Linked DNA regions of Homo sapiens. The protein of the gene in region 1 interacts with the protein of each later gene in a pairwise test. Each region holds a gene or a part of one and is shown on either strand. Other genes may lie near its edges.

What was found.
Region 2: the proteins of SLC35G1 (region 1) and YIPF1 interact in binary tests that used the Homo sapiens proteins (3 or more experiments, as listed by UniProt).

What each region holds. Positions count from the first base shown.
Region 1 is NC_000010.11:93,886,514-93,900,138, forward strand, and holds the start of SLC35G1 (solute carrier family 35 member G1), read left to right. Parts: upstream 1-7,464; 5' UTR 7,465-7,520; coding exon 7,521-7,698; intron 7,699-12,057; coding exon 12,058-12,238; intron 12,239-13,625. UniProt on the Homo sapiens protein: May play a role in intracellular calcium sensing and homeostasis. May act as a negative regulator of plasma membrane calcium-transporting ATPases preventing calcium efflux from the cell.
Region 2 is NC_000001.11:53,851,798-53,858,797, forward strand, and holds part of YIPF1 (protein YIPF1), read right to left. Parts: intron 3,255-7,000; exon of another isoform or gene 3,204-3,254; intron 474-3,203; 3' UTR 1-473.

The DNA.
Region 1 (13,625 bases):
CAACCCCACTGCTAAGTATACACCCAAAAGGAAGAAAATTAATATATCAAAGAGATATCTATACGCCCATGTTTATTGCAGCACTATTCACAATAGCCAGGATTTGGAATCAACCTAAGTGCCCATCAACAAATGAATGGATAAAGAAAATGTGGTACATATACACAGTGGAATACTTTTCAGTCATAAAAAAGAATAAGATTCTGTCATTTGCAATGACGTGGCTGGAACTGGAGGACATTATGTTAAGTGAAGTAAGCCAGGCACAGAAAGACAAACTTCACATGTTCTCACTCATTTGTGGGAGCTAAATTTAAAACAATTGAACTCATGGAGACAGAGAGTAGGAGGATGGTTACCAGAGGCTGGGAAGTGTAGTGTGGGCAGGGGTAGGAAAAAGGGATGGTGAGTAGGTACAAAAATTACTTAGATACAATGAATATGATTTCGTATTTGATAACACTAAAGGGTGACTACAGTCAGCAATAATTTGTTACACATTTTGGAATAACTGAGGGGGTATAATTGAAATGTTAGTAACACAAAGAAATGATGAATTCTTAAAGTGATGGATTTACCCTGATGGGGTTATTACACATTATGTGCCTGTAACAAAATACCTCATGTACTCCATCAATATATACACCTACTATGTACCCATAAAAATTAAAAATAAAAAAAGTTAAAAATATAAAATAAAATATAAATGACATAAGGTTGATCACCTTTAAAAAAAAAGTTGCCAGAAAAAACAGTGGGACAAAGATAATATTAACACTGATTTATCATCAGAGACAAGTCAGCCAGAAGAAAATAGAACAAGATTTTCAAGGTCTTGAAAGAAAAAAACTGTCAACCTATAACTGTATATCCAACACATATATTCCTCAAAACACAAAATAGAAATACATTTTTTAGACAAACAAAAACAGAGAATTTGTTGCCAGCAGATCTACTCTACAAGAAATATTTTAAAATTTCCTCAGGCTGAAAGAAAATGATATCACATGTATCACATAGAGACATAGTCCTAGACAAAGGAATGAAGAGTTTCAGAAGTGGTAAACATTTATGTATACGTAAAAGATTTTTCTCCTCATTTTTTAATCTCCTTAAGAGGTAATTGACTGTCCTAAACAAAATACTAACAATGCATATATTTAAAGAAACTTATAACCTATTTCCTCCTCTCTATCCTTTAAGTAAGCTATTGTTACAATTATCATACATTTTATCTAAATGTTTTACAAATATGAATACACACACACTATGGAGGCTGCAGGAAATATTGACCTTGGCAAACTAGAATTACCTAAAAGCATTCGTTGTTTTAGGGCAGTAATGGTTAAGAACTTGGGCTTGGGGCCAGTCACAGTGGCCAGTCACAGTGGCTCATGCCCAGCCCCTTTAGGAGGCTGAGGTGGAAGGGTTGCTTGAGGCCAGGAGTTTGAGACGGGCTTGGGCAATATAGTGAGACCTTGTCTCTACAAAAAATTGAAAAATTAGCCAGATATGGTGGCATGTGCCTGTAGTCCCAGCTAATATACAAATATACAAAGCAAATATACATGGCTTTGTATCTAAATGGAACCTCTTGAGTGCTTTCTATCCTTACTACCACTGAAGGTGAAATTGCTGCTGCTTTAGCGGACTAGAACTGGCTTCTCTTATTGGATTGTGGTAGCCAAGCACTGTGTGTGTGTGTACATATGTTTGTCTGTAGGATAAATAATACTTTGTAGTTTGGTATTGGAATTCTCTGCTTACTGACACTTGGCTTAAGCCTTCTTTCTCCCTGAGGTCTCATCTTAGTAGAAATTAATGTTTGCCCTTTTTGTTCGACAGAATCAGGAGTTGGAAGAACATCCAGTAATGGGTACACAGAAATGGAGCAGGGAGAAAGAAGGAGAAGACGGAGAATAACAGAGTGCCTGAGGCATGCAGACGATTCAGGAAGGGACTAACATTAGGTCTGAGTTATATGTAGGTATTCACGTTGCAAATTGCCTATGAACAGCCTCCATTCCCTGTGGGACCCAGCTGAGACCCATACTTTGGACAGCAGAATTGAGTTAGGAAGAGATCAGAGCTGTAGACACTGGAGTACGACTGCTGTCATAGCAGATTAGGACAGAGGTTGGATTCTGTTAATAGCATTATAAAAATTGTTTTTCTTATTTATTTCACAGCATTTTACTCTAGGAAAGTTAAGATGCTAGAGAGACACCATAAGCCTAGTGCACATCACACAGTTGTGTGGAAAGTCATCATGAGTATTGCCATCGCAATGGTCTCAGCGTTCAAAGGAGAACGTTGAGTGAAAGAAACTATGCTCTAATGAGGTCCTCTCAGAAACCAGCAATCCTGGCAATTCAGCTCTCTGGGCAAATAATAGAGCAGAGTCATCAGGACCACCCACCTAGGCGTCTGATGATCCTGGGTTTCAATCCTACCTGGGCCCTTCACTATCAGTTTGACTTTGGGCAACTGGTTTAACATCTCTGAGCCTCAATTTTCTCATCTATAAAATGAGGATGATAAAATGCATACTGTTTAAAAAAGAGTACTTACTGTCGGGTACTCTACAAGTATTATCTCATTTTATCCTCGCAACAGCTAGATACTATTATTATTCTATTTTATAGGTGTGAAAACAGAGGCTCAGAGCAATGGGCTGTCATGTGTCGGAAGTCACAAGGCTGGTTAAGTGGTACATCCAGGAATGGACCCTGGGCATTCTGATTCCAGAGCCCTGCTTTTAACTATTAAGCAAAACTGCTGGATAAAGCTCTCCTGAGTATCAAATAAGCTGATGAGCTCAATAGTGCCTGGCACATTTTGATTCTTTCATAAATGGTAATTATCAAAATGAGAGTTGAGTGCAATCCAGATCCCAAGTTATGACAAATCTGGGGTTAACGTGAATTCTGTAGCAACACCCAGGGCCAACTCTAAAGCTCAGGCATCCTCACTCTCAGATAATCTATAAACAGAAAGTTCTCATAGAAAAATACAAGTTCCCTGGGGTGTCAGAAATCGTTTATACAGAAGGTGCCTTTTGCAGCATGGGAACAGATCAGAGAGTAGGAAAGCAAGGAAGAACTGGAGAATGTCCTGGCCCCATCGTCAGAGCTCCCTTGAAAGGGAGCATCCTGACTTCCAGCCCAATCTGTCCAACAGGAGAGAACAGAAAGCTGGGAACTAAACGAGTGCCACACCCCTGGCTCATGGATTTTGCAGGATGCTAGGTAATGCTAGCATCATTTCTTCATTTCTCCATCATCTCCCTCCCCATCCCGATCACGTCCTCGGCCTTGTCTCTTTTGTTCCCAACTCCACCACTGCCAAGAACTGTACGTGGTCCAAAGTGGGCACTCAAACAACACTAGCTGAATGCATTACATGAAAAATGGTATGAAGATAAAGATAAACATATTAGGGATCAGAATGGAAAATTGTCATGCCTTTTTAAAGATGAAACACAGGACTTCAAAGAAACTTCAAAAATCTGGTAAGGGCTTTAAACTGTCTACAGAGATTAAAGTTCAAACTCTCAGAAATGTTTTCCCTGGCATTTTTAACCCCTTAAAAATTTTAATAAAATACACATAAAATTTACCATTTTAACCACTTTAAATATACAACTCAGTGGCATTAAGTGCATTCACATGGCTGAACAACCATCACCACCATCCATCCACCGAACTCTTTCACCATCCTAAACTGAAATGCCATACCCATTAAACACTAACTCCCATTCCCTCCACATCCCAGACCCGGGGAACCATCATTCTACTTTCTGTCTCATGAATTTGACTATGCTAGGCCCTGCTAATAAATAGAATCATACAATATTTGTCCTTTTATGTTCAGTTTATTTACTTAGCATAATGTCTTCAAGGTTCATCCATGTTGTAGCATGTCAGAATTTCATTTCTTAAGACTGAATAACATTCCACTGTATGCTTTATACCACACTTTGCTTATCTGTTCATTCATTGACAGACATTTGAGTTGTTTCCAGCTTTTGGCAGTTGTGAATAATACTAATATGAAAATGAATGTACAAATATCTGTTCAATTTCCTGCTTTCACTTCATCTGGGAATATATATCCAGAAGTAGAATTGGAGGATCATATAGTAACTATGTCTAATTTTTTGAGGAGCCATTCCTGGCATTTTTTTCTGTTATATTATCAGAGTCAGCTCCTACTTATTTGAACAGTTTATTTTGCCTCTCCAGTGTTCTATCCTACATTTATCCTAAATGACCTCTCTTTTGCTGGTCCCTTCTTTCATTTACAAAGATTATTTAGAAATATGATCTTATGTTCCACAGTACTGATTTTTCCCAAAACAAAACATTAGGGCTGTTTGGAACAAACTGCCATTTCCCAAGTCATAAGTTGCATTAGTTTAAAAGGTAAGAATCCATGAATTTTTTGGAAAAAAAAAAGCAGTCCTTCAAATCAGTACCAAGGTACCAGTTTGTTATGAAAGACAGTTTCTGACATACAAACGTCTCACTTAGGAACATCCCTGACATGCAAAGACCAGTGGAAACCAGGAATCTGACTCCTCCTGGAAGTCTCCACCTGCTGCCACATGGATGGTGAGGATCTTGGACTTTCAGTGGTTAGCAGGGACAGGTTAAAACCCACCTCTTCTCCATTTTCATCTTCCTTCTTGACACCAGAACTATGGGAGTGCCATCCTTGCTGTGGCTACCTGGCATCACAGTGAGAGCTCCTGTTCTCACTGGAAGATTGAATCACTTCAGAAGCAGAAGAGTGTGTGCTGGAACACAGCACAATTTTGCATACAGAAACAATGCTCTTTCACATCTAGTCAACGAGTTCTGCACATTCCATCTCCTAGCCACCTCAAAATCCATCTTTCCTCCTTGCCTTCTCTACCTGGGGTCAGAATCTCATCTGGGTCACTTCAATAGGCTCTGAACTAGTCTCCTCTACAGTCGGGATTTCTGGCCCATCCTGCACATTATGGAGATCTATCTGTCACCAGCTCAATATCACTATCATCACCAAAGACCTGAAATAACAATGTTCAGGAGAGACCTTAACAGCCCCACACCTCTACTGGGTGGAGCTTCAGGACAGCCATGTCTTCTGACTTCTAGTCTGGTCCGCACTTTTTTTTTTTTTTTTTTTTTTTTTTTGAGACAGTCTCGCTCATGTTGCCCAGGATATAGTGCAGCAGCGTGATCTCGGCTCACCGCAACCTCCGCCTCCTGGGTTCAAGTGATTCTCCTGCCTCAGCCTCCTGAGCAGCTGGGATTATAGGCACCCGCCATTACACCTGGCTAATTTTTGTATTTTTAGTAGAGACGGGGTCTCACCATGTTGGCCAGGCTGGTCTCGAACTCCTGACCTCAAGTGATCTGCCCTCCTCGGCCTCCCAAAGTGCTGGGATTACAGGCCAGCTTGGTCCGCACTTTTCTCATTGGTTGCCTTTTATGTCAGCATGGCTGTCAGCTAAATGGGAGAATGAATATAACTGATACCATTTATATATGAAGGTCAGCAGTGGAGGGGAAGGAAGTTAAAGGGAATAAACAGCAGGTATGAAATCATCTCACCACCTTTAATAACTGGTGTAGTACCCATTTTCTTCTCTTCTTCTTCTCCCTTTTCGAGGATGGTGTTGAAAGTGTTGAAAGTGGAGCAGTCAGGGTACTTCCTTCTCAAATCATCACACTTCTTTCTTCTTTACCACACTTCCTAGCCATAATCTTCACCATTTAAGAGGAGGGGACTCTTCAAACCCTTTCCATATCGAAATCTTAGAATGCAATTGTGAAACTGCACTTGACTTCCCAGATATTTGAGGAAGCTTCCTGGTTCTTGCTTTATAATCATGATCTACCACCCTTACCATCCTTCCCTGAAATTTCCCTATCTAAAACAACGACAACAAAACCTGTTACAGATATTTTTGTAAGTAGCCTTAAATTCTTTTAAAAGTATTATTATTTTTTTTATAGAGACAAGGTCTATGTTGCCCAGGCTGGTCTCAAACTCCTAAGCTCAAGCAATCCTCCCACCTCAGCCTCCCGAAGTGCTAGGATGGTAGGCTGAGCCACCGTGCCCAGCCTTAAATTCTCTTTTAAGACAAGGCAAAAGTATGTGTTAATCAAGTTAGAATTCAGGTGACCATTTGTCTCAGTTTGCCTAGGACAGTCCCAGTTTATGCCTATTCCCTTGTGTAACTTTTAAAAGAGCTCCTCCTTTTACTCTTAAAAAAAAAAAGGTCCAGTTTGGAGGATAAATTATATGCTGACCCTAGTTTAAAACACACTTTGATTTTCTAACATAGTGTTTTCCAGGTGATATTATGCTTTTGCCCACATCATTGCATTTTATTTACATAACTACTCTGCGAAGCAGGAAGGGAAATACTTGATCGCTATTAAATAAAGGAGGTAATCAAGGCTTCGAGGGGTACAGTGGTGACTGAGGTCACACACTCAGGGCCAGAACCTAGGATTCCTGACTTCAAGTCTAAAACTGTTTCAGCTGTGGATCACTATGTGCAAATGTCTGAGTAAAGGCAAACTTCACTCTCCTTTGGTGATCTGCTTGGCACTGGACTTAGAAGTTTAGATACGTTCATCCTTGCACAGAGACTGTTCTTCCACATATAAAGCAAGCAAAGAGATGGAAGAAGAATTATTAGCTAAACAAAAAGAGGCTGTTAGTGAATCCTGGGCCAAAGAATATATTTTACCAGGTCTAATTACATCAGATTACTTGAATCTTACATCTGGCCAAATTAGGATATTTCCATTTAAGAAAAGAAAACCAAAGATCAATAATGCATGCCTACTCTTGCAAAGAATGCAAAGAACATATAAATGGGTTCTGGTCAGTCTTATAGATATATTTTCCTATAATTACACACTAATTCTTTCTTAAAAATATTTCCCAAAACAGCAAAATTCTACCCTCCTTGGTAAGCAGCAAAGGGACAACACGGGAAACAAAACAAAACAAAACAAAACAAAACAAAACATAAAAACCCTAGACCATTTAAAGACAAGCATGGTGCTTTGTAAAATCTTCGGGGTATCACAGAGGTGCTGAATGCGTGGTTACATCAATGAAAAAACGCCCACTCTTTGAGCCTCCTGAAAAGGAGGCCACAGGACCCCCGGGCGCCAGGGCTTGGGAACCCAGCGCCCCTCCTTGTCTGTGCCATGACAGACAGGTTCAGTGTGACTTGCCAAGGATGGCTCCAAGCAGCTGGGCCATGTAGCCTGAACGCAGCAGAGGGTTGGACGCCTTAGAGCCAGCTGTGGGCACCACAGCCCGACCAGGGAGGCAGCGGGTCTCCCCAGGTTAAGAGGCCAGCGGAGGACGCGCGCGGTCTCCTTGGGGGAGGGTGCGGGTGGGCCGGGCGCGCATGCGCATGGGCGCCATCGCCCGCCGGAAGAGCGGCAGCCCAGGCGCTGCTGCTGGCGCCAGACGGCACCGGCCGCTGGTAGAGCGCGTGCCGCGAGATGCGGCCTCAGGACAGCACCGGGGTCGCGGAGCTCCAGGAGCCCGGGCTGCCGCTAACGGACGATGCACCCCCGGGCGCCACTGAGGAGCCGGCGGCCGCCGAGGCAGCTGGGGCGCCAGACCGCGGTAGGTGCTGGCTCTGCCTTTCCTCGCCGTGTTGCTCCCGCACCGAGCCGGGTGAGTGCGCGGTGTGGATCGGGCTCTGGTCTCGCTCGGGGGTCCCGAGCGGGCGCCGGCGGGTTGGGGTCCCCGCAACCCGGGCACAGTGCCCGCCGCGCCTCCGTCCCCACCCTGCCCGGGGCTCGGGAAACCCCTCGAGCTGTCAGCTGGGGGGCTGCAAAGCGGAATTCCCGGCGCCCCAGCCGGCGCTAAGACGGAAGAAACTTTCCGATTGTTAGCAGTCCTTTTGGGATTCCGAGGCTGCTCCTGTAATTAGTGTCGGGGCAGGGCTGTGGAGTCAGACTGCAGTTTGGCGTACCCTCCCCTAGGTCGTAGGTGGGGGGTCAGCGAGAGAGGCCATCCTGCAGTGGGGCGACGTTGCGAGGAAGCTGACCCTGAAAAGTGATCCCGGTGGTTAAGGGTTCTCTCCGAAAAGGAAGCTGAAAAGCATCGAGTCTAGAAAAAATGTTCGTCCTAGAGTTTTAGAATCTTGGAAAGGCAGAGATAAGTGGGACCGCTAGTTTTTAACCTTTAGGGATACAAGGACTTTTTAGCAAACGATGCAGAACAAGGCATATCTTGTTAAGAAGCTCACAGCCCCGTCCCCAAAGTCAGGGACCCCTCGTGAAGAACACTTTATGTTCAGTCCCCCTCCTTCGACACATGAGCAAAGTGAGGCCCAGGAAGGTGAGGGCTTTTGGGTTTTCGTTTGCTTTGTCTCCTCCAAGATGTGGAACGTGGGGGTGAGATGGGGCGCATGTCCAGGGAGCACCAGGGTTAGGATCCCAGCTTGCCATATACCGGCCTAGGGCCCTTTCCACTGGCCACAAGTGCTGCTTCAAGCACATTCCTCTTAGAAGTCGACCATCTACCAGGAGCAGCTTCCTGCAAGAAGAAGGGAATAGGCAGATCTCTTTTTAGGACAGTTACACGGCCTGCACCACCTTGTCCTCTGGGTCACCTCCCCTAAGTGTGACCCTGGATTTCTGTTCCTCTCCTCTCACTGCGCTTTCCCCTCCTCCCTTTGTGCACTTTCCCCAAGTTAGAGAGACAGACTCTAGGAAGACTATTCTTGCTCCATTTCTGTCCTAAAGGCAAACCGAAATGATCAGACTTGTGATCATTTATAAATGGGCTGGTGCCTCTAGAACAGGGGTTATGCCAGGCTGAATTGAACAGATAAGCAGCCTTTGAAAAGGTCAGTTTCTCACCTATCACCCTCTGGGTGAATGTCCTTCTGGTGGCATGCCGAATCAGTCCATGCAAACTCTTAAAGTTTCCCCTTTTTGTGAATGGAAGAGGAATTCTCTACTCCCAGGCAGCTCATGGCAAGATGAGAAACTTACGTGAGTGTATCTAAGAATCTTGTGGGTGTTTAACTTCAAAGAAAGTTTCTACCAGTAAGACTTAGTTATTGTAAGGTGACAAGATAATATTTTGGAAAGAAAATTGACATAAAAACACTTTACTGTTGTCATTGAACTTTGTGACACCTCTTGTTCTAACTGCTTATCTCAACAAAGCTTTTTTCAAGTTCTGGTTGGAACTGTTACCCATATGTCTTACATTCTTGGATGACCTTAACAGACACATACAGCTGTCCCAAGACATCTCCTTACTTTCTTCAGGGACAGTGTGGGTCTTACACTGAAGCAAGGAGAAGTAGTTTCTTAGGCCTGTGCCTCACATCCTCTGGAGGGAGTTAGTGATCGAGTGTAGCAGTGGTTCTCAAACTAGTGGAGCCTTTTAGAGTTACAGAGATTCTATTTCGGTGGGTCTGAGATGGGGCTTGAGAATTAATTTTTTTTTTTTTTGGAGATAGGGTCTTACTCTGTCACCAAGGCTGTGGTGCATTGGCGTGATCACAGCTCACGGCGACCTCAACCTCCTGGGCTTACTCGATCCTTTCATCTAAGTCTCCTGAGTAGCTGGGACCACAGGCACACACCACCACACCCGACTAATTTAAAAATATTTTTTGCATTGATGAGGGGGTTTCCCCGTGTTGCCCAGGGTGGTCTCAAACTTTTGAGCTCAAGAGATCCTCCCACCTTGTCCTCCCAAGGTGCTGGGATTACAGGCATGAGCCACTGCACCCAGGAATTAAAGTTTTAAGTGTTACTCAGGTGATTCTAATTCCCAACCAGGATTGCGAATCACCAGCTGAAAGCAGAGGATAGAGAAGCTGAGTAATTTTTCAGTTTTCTTCTAAGTGAGGAAATTACACCATGGCCACTTACCTAATTTGAATAATTTGAGTTACCAAATTATTAGATATGCTTGCAGTGAGATATGAACATGGAACCTAAACAAATGCCTCTTTCAGTTATGCTAGTCATGCTCATCTCCATTGACAGGATTGAAATGATTTAGTAAGAAACTGAGGTTTGTCTGAGTGGAGCCAGTCCTCACCCTCGTTAACAAATCATCAAATGCAGCGAGGCCTTCTAATGTCTGTCCCTTCCCAGTTGGAAAGCATGAGCCTTAAGTGTTTATAGGCAAGAAAATACATGTGTATGTGTTTTAAGGGGAAAGGTCACTAGGGCCAAGGGGGTGCAATTACATTTTTAAAGAGTTAAAATATTTAATGTTAAGTTAAAATATTCCTGGGGAAAAATTAGCAAGTTTATGTTGGAGAAGATACTTGAAACAGAGCAGGGAGATGTTTTCTGTCCTTGATCTTCTCGGTCTGTTCTGTTTGAGGGTGGAGTTTCTATGTAGGGGTTGAGTTTCTTTTAAGAAAAACTGTTTTATTTGGAACTGAATTCTGAAATTTCAGAGGCCAGACCCTAAGGCTGACCACAGCCAAGGCATGTATTTTGTGGTGCTTCACTTGGAAGTCTTCTAAAGCTTCCTTCTCGTGGGCTGCGTGTGTGCAGTTTATTTCTGCAGTATACAAGCACATGGATACAGAACAGAATGAGGATTCTGGCATCTTAAGGGAAGGACTACTGCTAGTTCCAAAGCAGTATCTTCAGCTGTGCACCTAGAACAGGAAGAGGTAGAGAAGGGTGCCTTTGACCACAAGGCCAGGCTGTAGAATGCCCCAGAAAGCCTGTGCATCAGCATACTTTGGTCCCAGTTTGCAAAGTCATCTCACTAACCTGAGGATGTGTAAATGTGTTACCTGGTGTTTACATTTATCAGAGAAGGGCATTTTAAAAAACATTACACAATACTGTTTTATAGCTATCACATTATAAAGTCCTAGATTGGAATGATAATACGAGTTTTCCTACAAGTTGCTCATATCCACTCACCCTTCAGTTCCACTGTGCTCTTAATCAATGAGGGCCACTTGTGTTTCCTTCTTACCCTCAACCCTGTTTTTGTGTTAATTTCAAAAAAGAATATATCCCGCAGTGTGTGACCTTTGTTTTAGGGCATTCTCTGCCCACCCTGCTGCTTTTGCTCTCTGAATGACAGAGGAGTAAGACTGAAAGCAGGTTCTACTCCTGTGTAGGAAACTAAGACATAGTAAGTGGCTAAACAAGTTTAAAGCTCACACAGATTGTCATTAATGACTGAATACTTGATGCCCTGGAGAAAGCACTGGTTTCCTCGTTCAGATCGAGCCAAGAGTAGGGATTAGATGGCAGTTCTGTACAAAGCACTTGGGATCCAAAGGGCTAGATAACCCACACCCTCCCCTTGAGGAGTTTGTGCTCTGAATGGGAAGATAAGTCGTGAAAGCATGAAAAGTTAAATATAGATTTGATTAACAGTTCAAAATAACAAAATGGAGAACCTTCCCAGATTATGCTGTTGCCGATAGTGTTAGACTCTTGAGTCTTTCCCTGAAGTTCTCTCATCTTTCATTCACTGAATATTTATCCAGTGTCTTCCATGTGCCAGGCATGTACAAGACAGCAAGATCCCAGCCCTGGAAGAGCTCACAGACTTGTGGGAGGAAGTCAAATAATCAACAGATAACTGTATAACCCAATTATAACCCATTTTCCAGAAAAGAACACTTTCTTCATAAAGCCAATTTCGCCAGTGAGGTGTGGCGTAAGATATCACTTGGAAGGATTTTTTACTTGCCATCTTGACAAGTGTTTCTTAAAGATTTCTCTCACCATCTTGGCAAGCGTTCTACTTCTTGACTTGTAAGTGAGGATGATTCTTCAGTGAGCCATAGGAAATCCATTTGATAGGGCGAAACGGCATTTTAAAAATGCAGGTTTAAATTGTTATCCTCATCTATGGTTCTTCATAATTGATGGGGAAAATGGTACAGGCCCAGAGAAATGATATGCTTAGGAGGTAATAAAGCCTGTTGACCTTTGACACTGTTCCATTTTTCTCAGTTTCTAAGTGAAAATGATAACACATACACTTGGAAGCAAGGACTAACCAGAATTTAATCTTTTTCAGAAGCCAAGAAGAAAGCACCCTGTCCTGGACTTGGCTTGTTTTACACATTATTGTCTGCCTTCCTTTTCTCAGTGGGCTCTTTATTTGTTAAAAAAGTGCAAGACGTCCATGCTGTAGAGATTAGTGCGTTTCGATGTGTGTTCCAAATGCTAGTTGTTATCCCTTGCTTAATATACAGAAAGTAAGTATTTTTTAACTGCAAAGTAGAAGATATTAATAAATGTGTGTATATCTTTTCACCTGCCTATAATTACTCTATCTGCTTTATCCATCTCATATACTTACCAGTTCCTATGCCCCTTGGCTCTGCTTAATGAAAAGTCATAAGCATCTACCCACAGAAGATTCTACCATGAGCATAAACCACATACCCAACAAAGTGGGGAGAAAGAAATTTTGTTTTTCACCACCTCCCCTTTTGAAAACAGAGCTTTCTTTGTATAATTCCTCTTGTCTTGTATCACCCTCCCTTCTTTCCTTTGGCATAACTACTGTTTGGAAGTTAAAAAAATGAATGAAAAGAAGTAATAGTGTATCCTAGTATCAGAAGTTTTTTTAGAATGGGCTGCTTTCTTACCAGGGCAAATAGAAGATTATAGTAATAATATTTAGGTATTCCTCAAAAGGTGATGGGGTAACCCTGAGCAAGGTTACTTTCGTATTTAGTTTCCTCTTTTGTAAACTAGAGGGAATGATACTGTGTGACTTCTGCCCTACAAGGTGATTCCAAGGGTCAAATAAGATTTATTATAGGGTGGAGTGCCTTGTGTAGAGTGTAACAGTATATGAAAATTGTCTCTATTCCGCCCTCTCTGTTCTCTCCCAACCCAATTCCTCTTTTCCTTCCCTGTTGAACTCCCTACCCTCCCTGGGTTAAAATTATGCCTCCTTCAACCATTGTAACCTCCATATACCTCAGTGTATTTAGAACCCTGAGAGCGAGACCAGTTGGGTCCTTGGTGGCTGCCTGGCTCTTTGTCTCTTTGGGCAAAAAAGGCTACACCCCAAATGAAAAGCTTTAGTCACTTGTCACCAAAGTCTCCTTGTATCTCTAACATGGTGCGGATTCACTTAGAATAGTTTCACTCCATATCCTGATGATTTGGTGGGAAAAGTGAAAACCTGCTAATACCTGCAAATTTCTGTCAATGCGGACAAGTCACACTATTTTAAGAAATGATGGTAGGGCTTTAGAAATTTCTAAGGGTAGCAGCAGAACACCGATGCTAACATAATCATCTCCCCCATTTTGAAATAAAGATATTGTCAGGGGAAGGACACTGGAAGAATGTTGTTAAAATCCTTGGTCCTCATCTGTTTTGACCCATTTTATGTTTTATTATCATGGAAGACTCTTTGCTTCTCAAAGTATGGGCCAAATGTGACCGTGCTTTCATTTTAACTCCAAGATACCCGGGGTAGCCTAGATGATAATCTAATGAAGTCTAGCCCTGGCACACGTCAGCAAGTTGCACCTAGCCAGGAACCTACACAGAGTGGGTACTTAGTAAATATTTATTGAAAAAGAATTTGAATAGCAGTAATCATACTTTTCCAAACACTACATG
Region 2 (7,000 bases), on another chromosome or scaffold:
ATTTTCAAGCTCCCGGTTAATCCCCACCAAAGTTTCTACTGTTCGGCTACTTCAGGATGGCTAACATTTGGAGAGAAGAGGATCCCCCAGGTAGTCTGTACATAATTCAGAGAGAGGACATCAGAATTTTCCATGGTTCTATTTCAGGTATTAAGGTACCACAGTGAAGCATGTCATTTGACTGTGGTGGCAAAGGGACGGCACTGAGCATGCCTAACCTATTCCCTGGCATTTCAGTCCAATCAGCGCATGCTCGCAATGATCATCCATGGGTGAAAAGGAAGAGCTGAAAGACACATGTGCTGAGCAACATTTAATTTCTGCTTGTTAAACGGGTGATTAGGCGCCAGTGTGGCACCATCCAGACACTGGGAATTTGTGCCACTCCATCAGTTCTGCTGGCTCTGCTCATTCTGCTTTCCTGCAGTGGATGCCACTTCCCAAAGAACCATGCTCCAAAAAACAAAAGAGAACTGAAAAACAAAACGGGAAACTTTCAAGATAAAGCACCCCCCCACCCCGACAGGAAAGAGCTACATTGTAGAAAAGGATATTCATGTATGTTTAGAGATATAACTCCCAACACCGGAGCAGTCTGCTGCCACCAATTCCCTAAATCTTGAGGCTTGAGTCTAATTTTGATGCTAAAAGTAGAGCTTAGTGTTGGAAGAAAGATGATGCTTTAAAAAGTTTTCTTCTATTTGCTTGGAAACCCAGTGACCCTTTCCAAGCCAGATCCTAAAGCTACCTTTGCCCATCCTTCTCTCTTTCTCTTCTCCGTGACAGCACTGTGTTAAGCACTAGAGGAGAAAAGATAAGAGTGGATATGGAGGGACTTAAAGATCTGGGACCTGGAAAACCGTGGTAATTGAAATGTAAGGTTATACAGGAGATAATGGCAGGATATGAGGCAGGACAAATAAATCAGGGATAGATTGTGGCAATGCAGGGGGTTTCAATTTTGTTATTTGGGCAATAGGGGGCCAAAAAAAAAAAGTTTCTAAGTAGGGAAGTGACATAGTTAAAGGCGTGGTCAGAATTATAAATTTTCAAAGACCCCTGTGGCTGTGTATAGGATGAATTGGAAGGAGAAAAAGAAAAGAAGTGGAGAAAGCCATCATGTTACTGCTGCAGTTCAAATATGAAATGATCGGTCCTGAACACTGGGTATGGTAACAACAGGACAGAGATGAAAAATACTTCAGAGATAGAAAAGACAGGTCTTGCTGACTGATACTATGTGGAAGGTGAGTGGGGGGAATCTACAATCTACCTTGATGCTGAGGTTTCTATCTTGGGTGACTGGATGGATTTCTTAATTAATCCAACAAATATTGAGGACCCATGTGCCAGGTACTGGGGACAGTGATGAACAAGACAGACATGGTCCCAACTGTCAAGGAACCAGTCTACCAAGAGAAGCAACAGGGCAAACAAATACAGAAAATATTATTTATTTAATTATAATCTTAACTTGCCAGGCGAGGGTGTAATAAAGAATCTAACCTACTCTGCAGTCAGGGACAGTATAAATGATGGTGCCATTCCCTGAGACAGGAAAACATGAGGAGGATCTGGTTGTAGTGGGGGATGAGTATAGCTTGGAATGTAATGAATTTGAGGCAACTGTTGGTATACCTACCTGGGGATTTGCAAGACAGGGAAACTTGGAAAGAGGGGCTGGAGATAGAGTTAAATCCAGGGAAGACTAAGGAATATGGTGGAGAATAAGTTCCTAATGCATAGCCTTCCACTTGGGAGAATGAGCTAGGCCTTCCTGGAGACATCAACAGGACAATACCACATTCAGATGTCAGCGTTTGATGATACCACGAAGGTGAGGCTAAGGCAAGGGCTAACTGCCCAAGTCTACTGGCTCAAGAAAAGAGAAACATTGCCAACAAAATATCTGTGAAAAGTGGCTGGAGAAAGCCAGATGCTGTAATTTGCTGGCATGAAAGAACCTAAAGCCCTGATCAGCCTTTTAGTAACCATCAACTTGGGTTCTGAAACGCTAAATAAAGGTAGGGACAAACGGGCCCACAGAGCAAGCACTCAAGATTTTATATTCATAAATATATACTCTGTTTTTCTCTCCTCTTTCTAGCTGTCTGTTCCAAATCAATGTCAAGACTAGGGAAGAATATGAAGACTAGAAAATTCCCTTCTCAGGTAGGCATGGTGACTCATGCCTGTAATCCCAGCACTTTGGGAGGCTGAGGTGGGCAGATCACTTGAGGCCAGGAGTTAGAGGCCAGCCTGGCCAACATGGCAAAACCCCATCTCTACCAAAAATACAGAAAAATTAGCCAGGCATGATGATGCATTCCTGTAATCCCAGCTACTCGGGAGGCTGAGGTATGAGAATCACTTGAACCCGGGAGGTGGAGGTTGCAATGAGCCGAGATTGCACCACTGTCCTCCAGCTTGGGCAACAGAGTGAGACTCTGTCTGAAAAAAAAGAAAAAAAAAAATTCCTTCTCCTGCTGCCAACTTTTAATGGGTGGCCAGAAGCGAAGAGGTTGGGAATTCTTGGCACTTAGGCCAGAGGGAGAAAAGTAAGATGCTGTTGCCCTTTGTGCCAAAGTTGGTCCCTAATGTCACCATCAGCCAGCACTTCCTTACCTCTTGAAGATTGCCTCTACCACCTCTTGGCCTATGACCTGACTCCTGACCATTTTTGGCTCCCCATCTTGGGTGGCTGCACTATCGCATGGGCATTCTCTGTCCCTTTCCTTGCCTCAGCCCTGCAGCCAAACCTTCCAATGTCACCACAGTCTGATCTGGGATGTTCCAATGAGAAGTTCCCATAATCATGTTTCTCTCTTTAATGTAAAAGGGCCTTCTAGTCTGTGTGGCGTATGAGATGTAAAACTGGAGTATAGAATCTGGGAGGGTAAGGACTGATCTCCGTTGTTCACCAGCACAGAGTAGAACTTCAATGAATGAACAAGTAAAGATTTCCCAAGTAACCTGCCACATAAATCCAGGAAAGTTTTGATGCTATATGATTGGCCTAACAACTTGTTCAAATGAAGCTTTCTCCAAGTGTCTGCTGGGTGCTAGGGAGCTATATTGGTAAATAAAGCTCTGCCCTCAAGGAACTCTCAGTCTATGAAGTTACAGTGAATAAGCAAACTGCCATAATAGAAGAACATACGAGAGCTGTAGAAGAGCACAGAAAAGAAAATAAGTAATACTACCTGGAGAAGTCAAGAAAAACTTCAGCAAGGAGAGGGTATCTCAAGTGAGTCCTGAAAAATAAACAGGAAATTGCCAAGTAGACAAGGCTTGTGAAATGAACACTCTTGACAATGTGAGCGAGTGACAGGATAACTGCATACAAACCCTGTGTATCCAATCAGGAGGATTTAATGACAAAGGACTCTCCAGAAGCCCTCTCTGCATCATTAATTAAAGCCCTGATCACACTGCGATATGATTATCTGCTGATGGCCCTCCTCCGGACAGCCCCACCTGTCACTGCCCCTGGAAAGCTCACCCCAATCTGGATGCGGTCTCAAGCCCTCAAGCCAAAGCAGGGCTTCCCAGGTACAGTTTCCAGGCTCTACCAGGGTCTTGGCTCAGAGAAGACATAGCACTGCCCTCATGTGAAAAGTTAATGAAGAAGGAAGGATGGAAGCCAGATATTCTTTATATTATTTCAATAACTTACATAGGGGTAGCATGCTGATTACAAGTACAGTCCCACACTGCATAATGATGTTTCAGTTGACAACAGACCACGTATACAATGGTGGTCCCATGAGATCACACCATATTTTTACTGTACCTTTTCTATGTTTAGGTACACAAATATTTACGATTGGGTTACATCTGCCTGCTGTATTCAGTATAGCAACATGCCACACAGGTTTGTAGCCTAGGAGCAATAGGCTATCCCACATAAGTGTGTTGTAAGCTATACCATCTAGGTTTGTTTAAGTATATTCTATGATATTGGCACAATGATGAAACTGCCTAATGACGCATGTCTCAGAATGCATCCCATCATTAAGCAATGCATGACTGTAACTGGAAGCTCCCCTATGATCCTGAGGTTCCAGGGAGAGAAGGGGTTCTCCCTGGAATGTGTTCTAAGCTAAGCCTTCCAATGCTCTCCTGGGAATGCGCTCTAGGCTAAGTTTTCCAATACACAGATTTACATGGGGAAGGTAGGTTACTGGTGAGATTAGAAGCCTTTATTTTTCAGTGAAAGCTGGGAGTCCAGAGATGACAGTAGAAGGCACAGCCAGCTCGTAAATCAGCAGCATTCAGGGCTCTGGACAGCCTCTCTATCAGCAAAGCAATTGATGCTTCTGCCAGGGAGGCTGCAAAGAAGCTGTTCATCACTACCTCATTTGGAGACTTGACACCCAAATGGAGGCTCTAACAGCCAAGTTCATAGATCTGAGCAAAGCGCAGAGGCGTCAAATCTGTGTACACCAGTCTGCTAAGTCTTCAAGGGCCCTGAGGGGCAGGCTCTTCTCAGATGCTGCTCTGACTCTCTGAAGGCCTTTACAACCAAAATGAAATGAAATAACTTAAGTCCTAGCTCAGGGGCAGGTTGAGAGAGACCCTCAACATGGCGATGTCAGGTACTTTGGGCCAAAAGAGAGACCCAGGAAACTGTTGCCATTGTGTTCTCTACCTCTGTCCCTCTCCAGCTGGGCTCGAATTGTCTCGTTCTCAGTGATGTGAGTCCACATCGTCTTATCATGGTTCCCCTGTACAGCCTAGGTCTTCATCTTCCCAAAAGCCATGGGAAGCAGACTACTTTTTCCAGAACAGCTAACTGACTGTGCTCAACCTTTATGACCCAGTTCAAACAAGAGCCCCTCTCTGAAGCTTCCCTCCAGGCCAACTCCAACTGAGTCCCTCCCTTCTTGGCCCCATAATGCTAAACTGACAACTTGGCTATGGCATTTAAAGCTTTAATAGTTCCTATATGGATTGACAACAGTATATGCAAATACTTCAAATATATACGTATCACAAGTTTGTGCTTGTGACTGAGAATCTAAAATGGCCTCCAGTGATCCCTGCCTGTCTCCAGGCATTCATGCCCTTGTGTAATTGCCTCCCCTAGAAGGTAGGCAAGACCTGTGACTTGCTTCTAGTCAATAGAAGATGGTAAAGGTGATGACCATCTCTCCTATGTTTACATTATATAGGACAGCAACTTCCATCTCACTATCAGACTCGATTGCCTCTCTCTCCCTTTATGGCTTTGATGAAGTGAGTGATCATACAGAGAGGCCCACGTGGCAAGCAACTGAGGGTGGTCTCCAAATGACCGTCAGCAAGAAGGCCCTCATTCTACGAAGCCACAGGAATTGAATCCTGCCAACAACCTTGTGAGTTGGGAGGCAGATCTTTTCCCAGTCTAGACTTCAGGTGAGACACCAGCCCTGGCCAATGTTTTGACTGCAGCCTTGAGAGAGAATCTGAAGTAGAGGAGCAAGCTAAGCTATCCCCACAGTCCTGCCCCACAGAAACTGTGAGAATGTGTATTGTGGTAATACCACTGGGCAGCAATAGATAATTAATACAGCACGCAAACTCTCAGCTGATAAGACATGCAATCAAAGGAGTGTGGAGACTGCTACTAAACACCTCTAGACCCGCAGAGGAAGGCTCCATCAAACAGCCAAAGGCTAGCAGTGAGAACCTGCACGTTTTAGTGGTAAAAAGAACATTTGTCTAAAAAATGGGAAAGTGAAAAACCTCAAAAATTGGCTTCCCAAGACTTAGATATGAGTCCCAGCTCTGCCTCTAAGAGGTAGGTGATCTTAGTCAGCCCAGATTTACTCAGCCCAGCCTTCTCATCTATACATACAATGTGGTCAAGAGGGCCAGTAAGAGTGGCCAATGAGAGAATAAACTAGGAAATGTTTTGTCAGGCCGGGCGCGATGGCTCACACCTATAATCCCAGCACTGTGGGAGGCCAAGGTGGGTGGCTCACAAGGTCAGGAGTTCGAGACCAGCCTGGCCAACATAGTGAAACCCTATCTCTATTAAAAATACAAAACATTAGCCAGGTGTGGTGACGGGCACCTGTAATCTCAGCTACTTGGGAGGCTGAGGCAGGAGAATCTCTTGAACCCGGGAGGCAGAGGTTGCAGTGGGCCAAGATTGCGCCACTGCACTCCAGCCTGGGCGACAGAGTGAGACTCCACCTCAAAAAAAAAAAAAAAAAAAAGTGTTTTGTCAAATGGAATGTGATAGACACATGTTAGTTTGCCCCAGAACTCTGGGGTGGCCTTGGGTAAGGCACTGTCCTCTCTCGGTCTCAGCTTCCTTATTGTAAAATGAGGAGGGAAGCCCATGCTATTTAATGTCTCCAAGGGCTCTGATCTTCTTTGATTCTAACATCGCATACCCATGAGAAGAGAGGAAGAGGCGAAAGTGGTAGACTATGACATTTTACAATAGTTCCCAGTCATTCTACTGGCCAGGGTGACTGTCTTACCATTAAGGAACTGGAAAGCATTTGACCAGTCATATCTAGTCAACCTACAGGGCCTACAACCTGGATTCCTCAACTAAGAGGGAAAATCCCCATTTGTTTTACAAAAAGGAAAAAATGATCAAGGTAAAGTCAGTGGGAGCCACCAAACATAAACTACTGACGCACTCTGAGAGTGGCAGTAGCTTTGATTTTATTGCTGAGCACCTTAACTATGTGCCAGGAGCTTTTATAAAAATAATCTCCAACCTTCACTACAATCTTATATAGTTTGTGTCATTCTTATTGTAAAGACAAGTTAGCTGAAGCTCAAAGAGAGTAAGCCCCTTACCCAAGGCACATTGCTAGTACATGGTAGGGCTGGGATTTATCATTATTATTATTAGAGACAGGTTCTCTCTCTATCATCCAGGCTAGAATGCAGTGGCACAATCACAGCTCACTTTAACCTCCATCTCCCAGGCTCAAGTGATCCTCCAACCCCAGCCTCCCAACTAGTTGGGACTACAGGAGCATGCCACCATGCCAAG